4 linked regions of the Homo sapiens genome follow. The protein of the gene in region 4 interacts with the protein of the main gene of each other region in a pairwise test. Each region holds a gene or a part of one and is shown on either strand. Other genes may lie near its edges.

What was found.
Region 1: the proteins of RAB2A (region 4) and OTOS interact in a two-hybrid assay, tested with the Homo sapiens proteins (one large-scale study listed by BioGRID).
Region 2: the proteins of RAB2A (region 4) and MAPKAPK3 interact in a two-hybrid assay, tested with the Homo sapiens proteins (one large-scale study listed by BioGRID and IntAct).
Region 3: the proteins of RAB2A (region 4) and MAPK6 interact in a two-hybrid assay, tested with the Homo sapiens proteins (one large-scale study listed by BioGRID and IntAct).

What each region holds. Positions count from the first base shown.
Region 1 is NC_000002.12:240,138,451-240,141,940, forward strand, and holds OTOS (otospiralin precursor), read right to left. Parts: upstream 2,209-3,490; 5' UTR 2,170-2,208; exon of another isoform or gene 2,055-2,169; coding exon of another isoform or gene 2,034-2,054; intron 1,995-2,033; 5' UTR 1,913-1,994; coding exon of another isoform or gene 1,877-1,912; coding exon 1,819-1,876; intron 1,639-1,818; coding exon 1,612-1,638; intron 905-1,611; coding exon 720-904; 3' UTR 576-719; downstream 1-575. UniProt on the Homo sapiens protein: May be essential for the survival of the neurosensory epithelium of the inner ear.
Region 2 is NC_000003.12:50,623,573-50,627,225, reverse strand, and holds part of MAPKAPK3 (MAP kinase-activated protein kinase 3), read right to left. Parts: intron 1-3,653. UniProt on the Homo sapiens protein: Stress-activated serine/threonine-protein kinase involved in cytokines production, endocytosis, cell migration, chromatin remodeling and transcriptional regulation.
Region 3 is NC_000015.10:52,057,141-52,060,793, forward strand, and holds part of MAPK6 (mitogen-activated protein kinase 6), read left to right. Parts: exon of another isoform or gene 1-115; intron 116-1,492; coding exon 1,493-1,657; intron 1,658-3,653. UniProt on the Homo sapiens protein: Atypical MAPK protein. Phosphorylates microtubule-associated protein 2 (MAP2) and MAPKAPK5.
Region 4 is NC_000008.11:60,620,924-60,624,155, reverse strand, and holds the end of RAB2A (ras-related protein Rab-2A), read right to left. Parts: 3' UTR 512-3,232; downstream 1-511.

The DNA.
Region 1 (3,490 bases), on a different chromosome or scaffold from region 4:
TGAAGCCCCCTTCCTCCCAGCATCCTCAAAGCCTAGAGCCGTCCCTGGAAGACAGAGCCTGCCCAGGCCCCGCTGTCCCTGACCGATGACAGATACAGGTGGGGTTTCTCAGTTCCGTTTCCTGCTGCCTCCTGGGCACTGCTCCCAGGGGTGTGTCATGGTGTGGAGTCAGCCTAGCCCTGACTGTGGGTTTGTGTGCTGCCCAGCTTAGTGGCCCAGAGCGGGGGTGCCTGGACTAGAATCTAGCTACCCCCTAACCAGCTGTGTGACCTTAACAAGTCAGGCTGTGACCGCATGTCTCTGCCTCAGTTTCCTCACCCGTAATCTGGGGGAACTGCAGTGCCCCCTAGGATCATTGTGGGAAATGGATGAGTGAGAGACACAGAAAGCCAGTCCTGAGCCTGCCCAGGATATAAAATCCCTTGTTGATGCCAATGTGGATGGAAATGTTGCACATTTATGAAAGAGTTTATGAAAGTGCTCCCCAGGAATCAAAATAAAACCAGCTTCATTTGTGAAATAAAGTAAGTGGGGCCTGAGCGCAGCTGTCCTTGAAAGACAACCCACAACGCTGGTTGTGCATCTTCAGTCCGGAGTTTATTGAGCGTGAGACCAGGCCTGACTCCTGCAGGGGCCAGGTTTTTGCGGGGACTCCATGCCTGTGGAGGCCCGACCGAGTGCAGCCTGGCGGGGTGGGCGGGCACCAGGCTGGACACCATTCAGTCCTCCTGATAGGGAACGTGGAAGCCCAGCGTGCTCCCCAGGGGGAAGTGGGCAAAGAAGGTTCGGGCCATGTCCTCGATCTGGGGGTAGGCCCCCAGGGCCTGGAAGTGCTGCACATAGTTCCAGAAGTCAGAGGTGGAGAAAGGCCAGTAGGGCATGGCCGGCAGCTCCGCGTAAGGGTCTGAAAGACACAAGACACCTGCCTTGGGGGCTGTCCCCATGGTCCTGCCTGGAGACACCATCCTCAGAGGTCTCAAGGCAAGTGGATGGTTCCCAGCTCTACCTACAGTGATACAACCTTCCCAGAGTGGGGGCCTGAGCCCATCCCCTCTCAGATCCTTGGGGATATCTGGTCGGGGAGACAGAGGAAGAAGAAGAAGGGGAAGAGAGGGAGGGAAGCCCTGTCCTGTTTGAGGAAGGAGTTGTGTGGGGAGGGTGTGGGGCACCAGCAGCCACCTGCTGGGATTTCAGAACAGAGCACAGACACCCCACTCCGCTACCCCCCGTATAACCTGTCCTAAAGCTTGGGCAAGAGCAGCCCTGAAGATACTGGACTGAGCTAGGGCTCAGAGTTGGGAGGGCCTGGGGGCTGGAACCCAGGTCTGATAGTGGGAATGTCAGGGGTCATGGGGCCCTGGCTCCCCCTGCCCAGTGTGTTCCCTGGTGGCTGGAGGGCAGGGTCCCAGCTGGAAGGAGCTCATAGACCCTCTGCTTGCACAGCTCCAAGCTGGCTCTCAAGGGCCATGTTTTCCATGCTTGGGCCTGAGCTGAGCCAGGGCCCCTGATGCGTCTGCTTGGGATAAGAAGCTGCTGCTCTCCCCAGCAGTTTCTCCCCGCTGCATACCAGTTACTTATGCAAATGAAAGGAAAGAAATTGGAGAACGGTACCTCCTTCCTCCTGCACAGGCTTGGCCCCTGCAAAGGAAGAGAAGAGCTGTCACCCAGGAGGACCACCCAGGTGCCGGTTGGGCCCACCCGACACCAGCTGCAGGGCTCTAAGGTTTCCTAGCAGCCTGGGGATGCATGCGGGAGGGGAGAGAACAGGAGGGCTGTCGGGGGTCCTGGTGGCTGCCTCCCTCCAGAGCGGCCCCTCACCTGCAAGAGGCCCCAGTAGGAGGCAGAGGGCCAGCCCCGGCACCATGCAGGCCTGCATCTTCCCGGTGCTTCCTGATCTGCGACTCAGGCCCACCTGCAGCAGGATGAACCCAGGAAGGGCGAGACCACCCATCCGTCAGGGCCGGCTTCCTCTACCAGTCCCAGTGTGGGCAGCCCTGGGGAAAATGGCATGGATTTAAAAAAAAAATTCTTACTGTTTTCCTAGCAATTTCCATTTCAGTGGTTTCAAACCACTATTTGGAGGTGAAATCCCTGCCTCAATTGGCCTTAATTCCCATGACTTAAGAAATTGCACCCCCCTCCACTCTGCCTGGCCTCTCCAGAGCTTACCTTGTCTCTGCTCAGCCAGCCGTGCTGCCTGGATGGGCTCTGCTGCCAGCTCAAGAGTCCTCTTTATAGAAGGGCTGCAGATGAGGAAGGACACGTCACCTGCCTGAACAGTCAAACTGAATATTTCATCCCCACCGGAGGACTGTGGGCTCCTGTCGCCCTGCTGGCAGGCACAATCAGAGTGTCAATTTCTGGGAATCTGATCCAAAGTTCAAACTGAGAGAAAAACATCTTGGCTCGGCCATTTCTGAAATTGTTAGGACTGAATTCAGCATTGGTACTTGAAACAAACCCAGTTTACTCTCCGCAAGGAGCGATCCTACGTCCAATACCGGGGCTGGCTGAGATTTCCTCCCTCGTGAGGAGGAGCTGAATAATTCCAGCGCTGCTTCCACTTAAACCAGCAGGCAGGAGGAGCCCCCGTCAGCGGGACCTGCCTGCAGGACGTCCACTGAGCAGAGCCCCAGCAGAAAGTGTGGGGTCAAGATGGACTTCCATCTCCAGGTGGGAGCTTCCCTGCGATCCAAAGTGTCAGTCTGTAGGTGGGCAGGAGGCTGTCCCCACCCTGGGACACCAGCAGCCAGCACCAAGGGTCTCTGTGGGCAGGGCCATTCTGACTACACAGCTGCCCCACTGACCACATCGGTTCCTATGCTGACCTGTCTTTCCAGTACATAGAGCCTCCTCCTGGTCCTGCTCCTTGGGGTCCCGCCACCCCACTGAATCAGGGGCCGAATTTGCTGTGGCGGTCTCCCCTGTCATTCCTGGTCACCCTGGGGGCTGTTTAAGGACTCTGGGAAGCTCCTCACCCATGTGTCCCATGGTTCTGGAGTTCATCACAGTCTGCTCACATGTCCCCATCCAAATGATTAAGGGCTCATTTTTCCCCACACAATGCCATACATTTAACCAAAGATACCCAGAGAGGTGGTTAATTTAATTCAGATGGTAAGGCAGCCATCCACGGATTAGATTTTGGGTTTCCTTTTCAGAAATCTGGAGCCTGTGGCTACAGGAGGCAATGGATTCTTTCAGGGCAGTTGTATTCGGGGTCACCAAGAGCACCCAGGTCAATGATTCACTAGGAAGATGCCCTAGGAGGACTCGTGGGACTCAGCATCCTCTCGAGGACCCCACGGGATGCTCTCCATTCCCCAGCACCACGTTGTGGTGACACCTGTGGAATCTCCCCATGAGGGGAGCCCTTCAGAACCTCAGAGCCCAGGGCTGGTCGTGCAGCCCCCTCTGACTCGTGCATGTGCAGATCTCCGACCCCCAGGAGGAAGCAGGTGCTTAGCACAACCATTTGTTGGCACATAGA
Region 2 (3,653 bases), on a different chromosome or scaffold from region 4:
CAGAGCACCCAGGCCCTCATTTTTTTTTTTTTTTTTTTTTTGAGATGGAGTTTTACTCTTGACTCCCAGGCTAGAGTGCAATGGCGCAATCTCAGCTCACTGCAACCTCCATTTCCCGGGTTCAAGTGATTCTCCTGCCTCAGCCTCTCAAGTAGCTGGTATTACAAGCATGTGCCACCTCACCCAGCTAATTTTTCTATTTTTAGTAGAGACGGGGTTTCACCACGCTGATCTCGAACTCCTGACTTCAGGTGATCCACCCGCGTCAGCCTCCCAAAGTGCTGGGATTACAGGCATGAGCCACTGCGCCCGGCCCAGGCTCTCATTTTGCTGATGAGCAGACTGTGGCTCCTGATCCCCAGAGGAGCACACACGCAGAGAGGAATGGCTGAGAGCCAGGCCTGGGTTCCAGCACAGGGCCATGTCCATACTACGTGACCCTGGGTGAGTTACTCTGCCTTTCTGAACCTGTCTCTGCATCCATGGCATGGGCGTGATAATCCATTCTGATTCTGCAGTGTTTGTGCCTGACATGTAGGAGGCACTCAGCAAGTGGGTGCCCTTATTGCCATCCCCCTGCCCCCTGTGCCACTGCCTGCCAGAAAGCACGGAGAACACCTGCCAGTCCTTCTACCACATCCTGAGAAGGGGGCTGTTAATGTTGGGTGAGCATCTGTGGATGAGCTATGGGTCTCTTGTGGAGGCTGAACCCTTAAGAATGGGGAAATGAGTGTGGCAGCTCAAGGTCCTGGTCCCTCAGGCCCCTGAATGTAGCCTCTGAGCCTTAGCAGGGCAAGGGTGGTCAGGTGCAGGGTGCCAGCTAGAGAGTCTTGAGTGTTCACACCAGCTAGTGCAGGTGCAGCTCACACTCAGCTCTGCCCTCTGTAAAAATGGCGGTAGGTTGCACCTCATACCTTGAGCCCTCCCAGACTCCCACCAGCTCCTCTGGCTGGCTCTAAGGCTCTGACTCAGGTCAGATCTCAGCCCTGTCTATACCTCACTGTGGCTAGGGAACCCTTGGGGGTCGTACTGTGCCTAGTCCCACACAATTGTCCCAAGCAAAAGTCTCAGACCATTGGGCCGTAAAAGGAGACCCAACAGCAGAGACTGCAGCTGAAGTTGACTTCACACAAGCCATGGGGGGGTGGCGGGGGACCTCCTCAGGTTACAGCTCAGCCCAAGAACTCCTGAGTCCACTGTTCTGACTGCCAAGGCTGCTGACACCTGGTCAAGGCGGGCAGCAGGAGGGGACACTGTGAGTGGCATGGGTACAGCACTCACTCCTCCTTCCTTCCCCACCCCCACCCTCCCCTGGGGTGGGGGTGGGGGAGTGAGCTGCCCGCTGACCAGGATGAGTCCTTAGCACCTGACCTGGCCCTGCTCTGTCCTCCGCCTGCCCTCAGCCTGCCAGGCTGCAGAAAAGAGGCCATGAGGCCTGAAACACACGAGACAGGCAAACTGGCAAGGCCCGGGAGAGCGGGGACAGAGCGATAGCAGGAGAAACAGGTGGAAAAGGAGAAATGAGAGGGACGAGGAGGCAGAGGACAGAAAGATCGCTAGTGCCATGAGGAGAAGGCAGCAAAGACAAAGCCCTAGTCTAAAGAAAAAGGCAACCCTAATCCCAAACCCGCCTCAAAAACAAAAGCAATCTTTTCAGCATCTCTGGCCTGTCTAGTGCTGAAAGGGCCTCCTGAGGCTCCTTGTTCCCCAAACGGGAGCCTCGTGTTCCTGCTCTAAGCCAAACCTCCACGGTTCCCACACAGCAGGATTTTAATCACAATTGCACAGGGCCTAATCCACTTAGTTCCAAACGGGCAGGAGGGTGGGGAGGAGCCCAGGACCCAGAGCTCCCTTCACGCCATTCTTTCCTGTCCCTCAAGGGGCTGGGTTCCCCAGGTGCAGGGCGCACCCAAGTGAGTCCTCATAAAAACCAATAATGTTTCACCAGCAAATGCACCCAGGCCACCCCAAATGAGAGCCCTGCCTTCTGAGTGTCTGCCGGCCTATGTTGTCTCATAGCATGAATGCAGGGATAGTAACAGTCACCGAGACTGGATCCTACTCCCCACCACATATTCAAACCCAGGGTTCAACTGCACCACAAAGATGATGGTTTTGCAAAAGATTATGAAACTGCCTTTAGTCCAAAGTCACTTGGGGAGAATGTCACAGAAAGCATTTTAAGCCGAGAGCACTGTTCCTCTCTCAACCCCAAGATGGGGCCTTTCATCTGGGACCACACAAGATGTCCAATAGATGGAGGGAGAGCAGTAGAACTAATGTTCTCCAGGGAAAACACCAGTGCTCACAGGAGCCATGGTCTCACTGTCCTGAGAGCAGCAGAGCCAGCTCTCCAGGAAGCGCTTTGTGCACACTCTCATGGCACAGGTATGCTTGGAATGCCTCTCACCTAGGGATGTCCTCAGCTCTTGCCCATGGGCCTTCACCATTAGACATGGCAGCCTGGAGCCAAGGGAGGTTGCGGGCTTACAGAGCCAGATGTTCCAACTACTGCCTCCACCCAGAGATCTTCCATGATGATGTCCCCAGCAGAGGAAAATGAGGGATCTAACTCCACTTCCCCAGGTGTGAAGCTCAGAAGAGATACAACAGACCTCTGTTGTAATGAAAACTGAGTCCTTCCCATATAGTCTGAACAACAGCCCAAGTGACCCAGGAGTCCCTGCAGCACCCTCAGCAATGGTGCTCTACCCTTCAAGGCCCTACACAAACGCCTCTTCCTCCACAGATTCCTCTGGTCCTCCCTCAGCTTCCCAGTCTTTGTCAGGACTTTGACACCGGCCCTGCTGAGGTCAACCACATCCTGCCAGAACACAGGTCTGCGAGTGGGAAACTGGTACTCCACAGCAGGTGCTGAATGTCTAAACCAGGCATATTGTCACACACATGCACACACACATACACATACACACACACACACACACACGTGAGTGCACACACACACAGGCACACACATACACCCTGTGCCTTCCTCTGTCATCCACATCCTTCTCAAACCAGAGGTCTGAATTAAACTGGCAACCTCTTCCAGGAAGCCTCTCCTAGCTGGCCCAGCCCAGATACAGTTTCCACTCGCCCACTCACCAGTCTGATTTCCTGCCCGTGGTGCTCTGGGCTCTGCCCAGCTGCACTTGTCTGAGACTCACAAGGCCTGGGAAAAGGCACACGACCTTTCTGAGGTGGCCTTCACAGTCATCATGGTCCTTGTGTGCTGGCCTCATGGGACTGCCACCTGTCCAATCACTGGCACAGAGTTCCATACAGTGAGGAGGACTGAGCAGATGTAGGTAGACACTGGCAGCATCACTCAGGGCCCAGCTGGGGCTGCCAGGGCTCCCAGTGGAGCCAGAGAGGACAATGCCAGCATCTTTCCAAGGACCAAGTCTCAGAGACCCTCCCGTGTCCCCACAGACTTGCATGAGGAGTGAGATGACTTAGATGCTAGGACTCTGGCATCAAACTGCCTAGGCTCACAGCTCAGCCCTGCTACCCACTAGTTGAGCACTTTGGGCAAGCTGCTGACCTCTGAACCTCATCCATATAATGGGAGTGATAAGAGTTAGGTAAGACAACTCATTCTGTGCCTTGTTGTGCACTGTGGACAGGGCCCGCTGGGCAGAATGCTCTGAAAA
Region 3 (3,653 bases), on a different chromosome or scaffold from region 4:
CTTACTATCCCTCCCCCGGTCCAGTCAGCCATTATGTCTCTCCTGTTAGAAGGACCTTCTCTTTCCTGCTTCAGTATTTGCTGTCTTTAGTTACCACATCGCAGCCAGGGTGGTCCTGTTGAAAGACAAGGTAGATCATGTCATCTCTGCTCAAACTGCATGATGGCTTTCCATCAAACTCAGGGTAAAGCAAACCCTTTGTTCTAGTACCACTCTGACTTATCTCCCATTATCTGCCCCAAGCTACTCTCCTTTTGCTACACTTGTCTAATTGTTGTTTCTTTGACATACCAACCTGCCTCTGTCTTCTGGGCTTCTCTCCATCTTCCTAGAACTCCTTTCTTTCTTCCATATGAATGTTTGGTGTATTCCTGACTTCCTTAATTTTCCACTTCTTAGTGAGGCCTTCCTTTGTCTCAAAAAAAAAAAAATGTCTTATTGTTGCCCAGGCTAGAGTGCAGTGACATGATCTTGGCTTACTGCAACCTCCTCCTCCAGGGTCCAAGCAATTCTTGTGCTTCAGCCTCCCAAGTAGCTGGAACTATAGGCATGCGCCTTGCCTGGCTAATTTTTGTATTTTTGGTAGAGATGGGGTTTTACCATGTTGGCCAGGCTGGTCTCGAACTCTTGACTTTAAAAAAGTATTAACAACCCTATTCTTCCCAACAGTGCCATCACCCTTAGCTTACTCTCTTTTTCTTTATAGCATATGTCACCATAAGACCTACTTTACAGAATTATCTGTCTTTATCCACAAGATTGTAAGATCCATGAAGGCAGGCACTTGGTCTGTTTTGTTTCATAACTGTATTCTCAAGTGTCCTGCGCATAGTAGGAACTAAAAGGAATTTTGAATGTTCAATGAATTTATAGACATTAAAGGAAAGGCAAGTGGAATTTTTATTTTTTGTTTTTGAGACAGGGTCTCACTCTGTCATCCATGCTGGAGTACAGCAAATGGAATTTTTAAAAGTCACCACCTATTTAGCCTAAAGTTTCCCCCTTTATTTCTTTCATTGCCTAACAACCTAGAAATGCTAACTGAGCCCTAACATAGAACTATAAAACTTCCTGTTTTACAAGTCTAGTCCAACCCTTCATTTCATTGATGTTGAAATAAAGTCCTAAGAGATGTTAGCTATTGTCTCTGAAGTTATAGCCAGTAAATTAGTGGTACAGTTAAGACCAGAATCCAGATCTCTTGAATCTCAGTTGCTTTTTTTTTCACTAGTTTGTGATAACCTTAATATGAGACCAAACTTAAAGAGTCAGTTCCCTATGGAAACAAAGCAGCAAAAACTAAATACATCAGTAAGCAGAAATTGAAATAGATAAGTAGATTGGTGATAGTCAAAGCAATGAAACCTGCTGATGATACAATTCAAACTTTTCCCCCCACTGGTCATTATAATATTTAAATTAGTTTAGTATGTTTATTGTGAAATAAGTAAACATTGAGGAATGTGTTTTTTTGTTTGTTTTTTAACCTCAGGTGCACATGAACTTGAACAGATGCAGCTGATTTTAGAATCTATTCCTGTTGTACATGAGGAAGATCGTCAGGAGCTTCTCAGCGTAATTCCAGTTTACATTAGAAATGACATGACTGAGCCACACAAACCTTTAACTCAGCTGCTTCCAGGAATTAGTCGAGAAGGTATTGTGACTCGAGAGTAACCCTCACGTTAATGCCTGTGTGTGAGGCAGAATCTGTGTAGGGAAGCTGGAGCTTTTTATCCTTAGATATGGGGCTTTCTCCAAAATAGTCTTTAGACACTTAAGGTGTACGTAAAACTTCAACTCTCATTTTCCCTTTTTTTGTCCTGTTACTTGGGCTACGATCTGTTTTTTTGGTTCCTCTGAATCACTTTCCAGAGCAAGTAGCAAGTATTTTGAATATAGGCACTGGGGACAAAATCATGATGGCATTTTTTCCCTCAGATATACTTGGAACTCCTGTAAATGCCTGGATAAAAAGAAAGCTGCTGTATTTAATTTCAGCCGGTTTTGCAGGCTTTTCAGTAGTTCCACATTCTTAATCAGTCTTTGAGTCTGTCTGCACAAATTCCATTGCTAGCTCCCTTGCTCGTAACCCTGTAGCCACTGTCACAACATCCCTGTTCATATCTAAATGAGTCCTCTGTGGGAACACTTTATTTTTATTTTTTATTGAAAAATAGAGACAGAGTCTTCCCTGGGCTGGTCTTGAACTCCTGAGCTCAAGCAGCCTTTCTGCCTCAGCCTCCCACAGTGGTAGTATTACAGGTGTAAGCCACCACACCTGGCCAAGGAGCACTTTTAAAATGCTGAACTAGTAATTCTGAATTGGGAGGTGGAGTGGGGAACAGGGTGGGTGTCTGCATACCCTCTCTAAGGTGTGACTCTGCTCAGCCAGGTGAAGACACTGTGTGCAGTGATAACCTGGATCCACTTCAGAGTAGTTGTCACTAATCAAGAGGACGGTGCTGTTGAAGCATTTGTAACCTTGCTGTATAATGCTATTTGAATCTTTTTCGTACCCTCATTAGGGTGGGGACCATGTTTTAATCTTTGAATTAAACTGAATATTTGGCCACTGACTGGGGTTTATTAACCATTGAGCAAAGATCCTTGGTGGTCACATGTGGCAGCACTGTGCTTGCAAGCAAGTGAATGCAGAGTGGATGGAGTTTCTGAGACTAAAGATTTATCAATTGTATGCTCCATACTACTTTCTTCTTAACAGTGGAGTTTTATTTTGGGACAGAGCACATTCTGAGGCAGTGGCAACTTGGTAAAAAGAATACATGTTCTCACCCCACATTCTTTATGATCTTTGAAGGAAAAAAGCAAACAGGATTAAGTACATCTGAGTGAACGTATAAGACTCCTAGGAGCCCTACTCTGGTTAATTTCCCTCTATACTTACCTCTCATCCTTTCTGTAGTATACCATATATTTCTCTAAGCATGGTTCAGCACCATTGTAGCATTCCTGTAGTCCTAGCTGTTCAGGAGGCTGAGGCAGGAAGATTCCTTGAGCCCAGGAGTTCAAGGCTACAATGAGCTATGATCATGCTATTGCACTCCAGCCTGGGCAACCGCAAAGATGCTGTGTCTTAAAATTATCTTTCTAAAGAAAAGAAAAGGGTTCTTTCTAGAGTACAGGTTGGCTTGAGAGAGAAAGGCCATCTTTCTCACTTAGAAGGCAAGGATAAGAGGATGTGTGAGTGACCATAGTGAAGAGGTAGGGATTGAGACAAATGTGAAGTGGGTTTATCTGTTGAGAATGATAAAGAAGACCGAGAGCATAAAGAGAAGGCCAGATAGCAAAGGTCACAATGAAATTGTTTAGTATGAATTTGTAATGAGCCAGATATGGGATATTGCAGCTAGTTTTCATCAGTTTTGTGTGGCCAGGGAGCAGAGAGAGTAGATGGTGGTGGTGATCCAGGGTTGAAGGTTGATATCATAAGGCATAGAAGTGTGTGGCTGGTGTAAATATAGCTTTCAGGCTGCGTGAGGAACTAAGGAAGGCCTACTAGACTATTTTATGGGAAGAACTGGATTTGTGGTTAACCAGAGTCCTAAGATGTGCAAGGTCAGTGTGTGAACTATGCTGGAGTGTGATGTGAAGCAGAGATCAAGAAATTAGTACAACAGAGATGTTTTACT
Region 4 (3,232 bases):
TTAGGGACACTTTGTATGTTTTTTGTAAATTGCTCATTTTCCTCCATTTTTCTATCAGGAGTTTGGTGCTTTGTCCTTCAATGTTTAAGAATTGGCCTCATAATTTTGTAAAACTAATTAATACTAATATATAGACTGGCACTTAGTTTTTGGCCAGGCATGGTGGCTCACACCTGTAACCCCAGCACTTTGGGAGGCTGAGGTGGGCAGATGACCTAAGGTCAGGAGTCTGAGACCAGCCTGGCCAACATGGCAAAACCCCGTCTCTACTAAAAATACAAAGTAGCCGGGCGTGGTGGCAGGGACCTCTAATCCCAGCTACTTGGGAGGCTGAGGCATGAGAATCACTTGAACCTGGGGAGGTGGAGGTCACAGTGAGCCAAGACGGCGCCACTGCACTCCAGCCTGGGGGATTAGAGTGAGACCTGTCTCCCAAAATAAACAAAATAAATAAAATGAAGTTCTCTGTCGTGACTTCAACCAAAAAATAATAATACCTAGTACATCCGAATGCAGTATGAGATGATCTACTGTGGCGTTAGGCTTTATTTTAATGTAAACATAAAGCACACATCTAAACTCTGAGAAATACAGGTAGATATGCTGGTTTACCTATTTGTATAGTCAATTCCTGTTTATTATGAAACAGCGTTATCTCTTTGTGTATCTTTTAGCTCATATAGTCAAACCCCATGCTGCCAACCTCAGGACTAAATAAACTGAGATGGGGCTTTACTATCTATGACAGAATAAATGTTTAAGGTGTTGCAAAGCCAGACATGAATCAGTTTTTCTGAGTGATTGGAAACATTTTGGTACGATTTATATCCTAACTCTTTTTGACCATTAGCAGATAAATAGGGACTATTTTCCTGCTAACAGGCTATTTTAAAATATCATTAAAAACAAATTGTATGCAGTTGTATATCCTGTTTCAGTTGTATATCTAATTATATGCCACATTCTTTCAAAAAATTGGCTTTTCATTCAGTTGTCTTAAATTTGCAAGACGAATGGTAACAATGTCTTTATGAAGATCACAATTTTGAATGTTACATGTTGAGTGAGACATTGAAAGCTGTGTTTATTTTTTTCAGTGACTGATTTTCTATGTCCATAGATGCTATAAAAACTGATCGAAGATCAACTAAAAATTCAATTACAATATTACAAATTCAACTGCAGGTACCAATATTACATTATTTGACAGGGATAATAAAATGAGCAAAGACTGGAAATCACAGACAATAACATTGCTTTCTCAATTAACAGAAAGGATTCATAACATATTCCTTAACGGTAGATGTGATTTGTAGAGAATGTGGAAAAGAACTATTGAGAAGTCCACCTGCTGCCCCAGACTGAGGCACATTAGGGTGGTTGTGGGAGGAGTTATATTTGAGGGTTCCATTTTTCCTTAGGGTATTAAAATGCATGTCCTGGTTTGTTGTTTATTTGCCATTAAGTTCTCTTCTTCAAATAAAAGAATTAGGGGAGAAAGTATGGAAAAGAAACGCACTAAACTTCTGGAAAAATTAACAGAAGCTTAAAAATAACAATTTCCAAAGAATCATTCTCTTCTTGGTATAGAGCAGTACCTGTCCTAGTTGCCTTAACTTTTTGTACTCACTGGTAAAGACAGTGATTAGTAAGACCAGTGAATTTGATACAGCCACTTGAAAGAAAAAAAGGCTGTACTACAAATACCCATGAAAACAGATTTTCTCTCACCCTTCCCTCTGCCCTCAAGGAGACAGTTAAAACAAAACTATGACAGCATTTGGTGATTTCCCACAAGAGTACTGTCAAACCTTTGAGAGAGTACTGCTGAATCTTCAGGGAAGACCTGTAGAAAGTTGAAGGCCATGAGCGAAATGAAAGTAGTTAGTTTCAGAGTTAGAACTTCTTTATGCTTTCTTTCAGGCATAAGTGCTTTTGTGCTAGTTCAGGAGAAAACACTTGCTTACACTGCTTACACCATCAACAAAAATAATTTCAGTATGGTGAGATTTGTCGCATTTTAGCAAAATTTTTAAAAAGGGTTGAGTGTTAACCATTCTGACCCTTTTAAAAAACATGCTTAAACCCATGTAAAAGCTGTAAGTGGACTAAAAATACATTAAAAAAGAGGTGGTCATAATAAAAAAAAAGAACACTTTTATACATAGGATTTTATTTTGCACTGCTGTAACAATTTCATTATAGACCAAGGGAGAAAAAGAAAAAAAGGATAAAACCACCACACTGAGTAAATTACTAAAGCTTTTCTACTTTGTAACAGGATTTTCCATCTGATAGATTTATTGTCATATCCCCTTCAAAACAGACAAGATGCTCACCATATTTTAAAGATTATAGAGGTTGCCACTGAAAGAAAAATTTTACACAGTCACTGTACATCAAGGTTGAAAAACTGTCCTGCATGAAAAATATACTTAGAAATCATGTGAATAAAAGAAAAAAGAAAACATTATTGTGTTTAAGGAAAGATTAAAGTCCTCATAATGTGCCATCTAAATGTGGATACTCATTCTTCTTGGAGTCGCTAAGATGTAGAAATTTCTTGCTTCTGCCCTTTTCACTCATTATACTGTGTTTTTTCCCAACAGTATTCATTAAGGCAAACAAATCCCTTTCTGAAGAGGTCTTAAGGAAATTGTGGACAAAGCAAACTTTTGGCATTAAAACAGGTTAACATATACAAAGCCTTTGTAATATACATTAAGCATATTTTTCTTGGACTAGTGACAAGAAAAGATGAACATGCTTGTTAACAATGTCAAAAAGTTTAAAATTCAGTGTCCAAGCAATTCCTAACAATGCTTCTGTAGCTTTAAGCTCTAAACAGTATAGAATTTATGCAAATGCATTAAAGAATTCAAGCTTGGCAAATTACACCCAAGCAGGTTATTAAACTATATATACAGAAAGTAAATGATAAATACAGAATTAAAAGAGTCCTTCTGTTTCCTTATAGCCGTGAAAATTGACAAAGTTTCTGAGGACAGTTCTATAATATTAAACATTAGGTAACCACAGATGTTGGGAAACCTAACTACACAAACCGATTTAAAATACTCAAGATGACTTTGTAGTGTTTAATACAATTCAGTTCGTAGTTAAGGGCACAAGACAACATTTAACAAAAATAATCACATCAATTGACCTAGAAATCAAATGCAAATAGATATGAATACAATCTCCAAAATCTGTCTTTTAAGTGAACATTAAC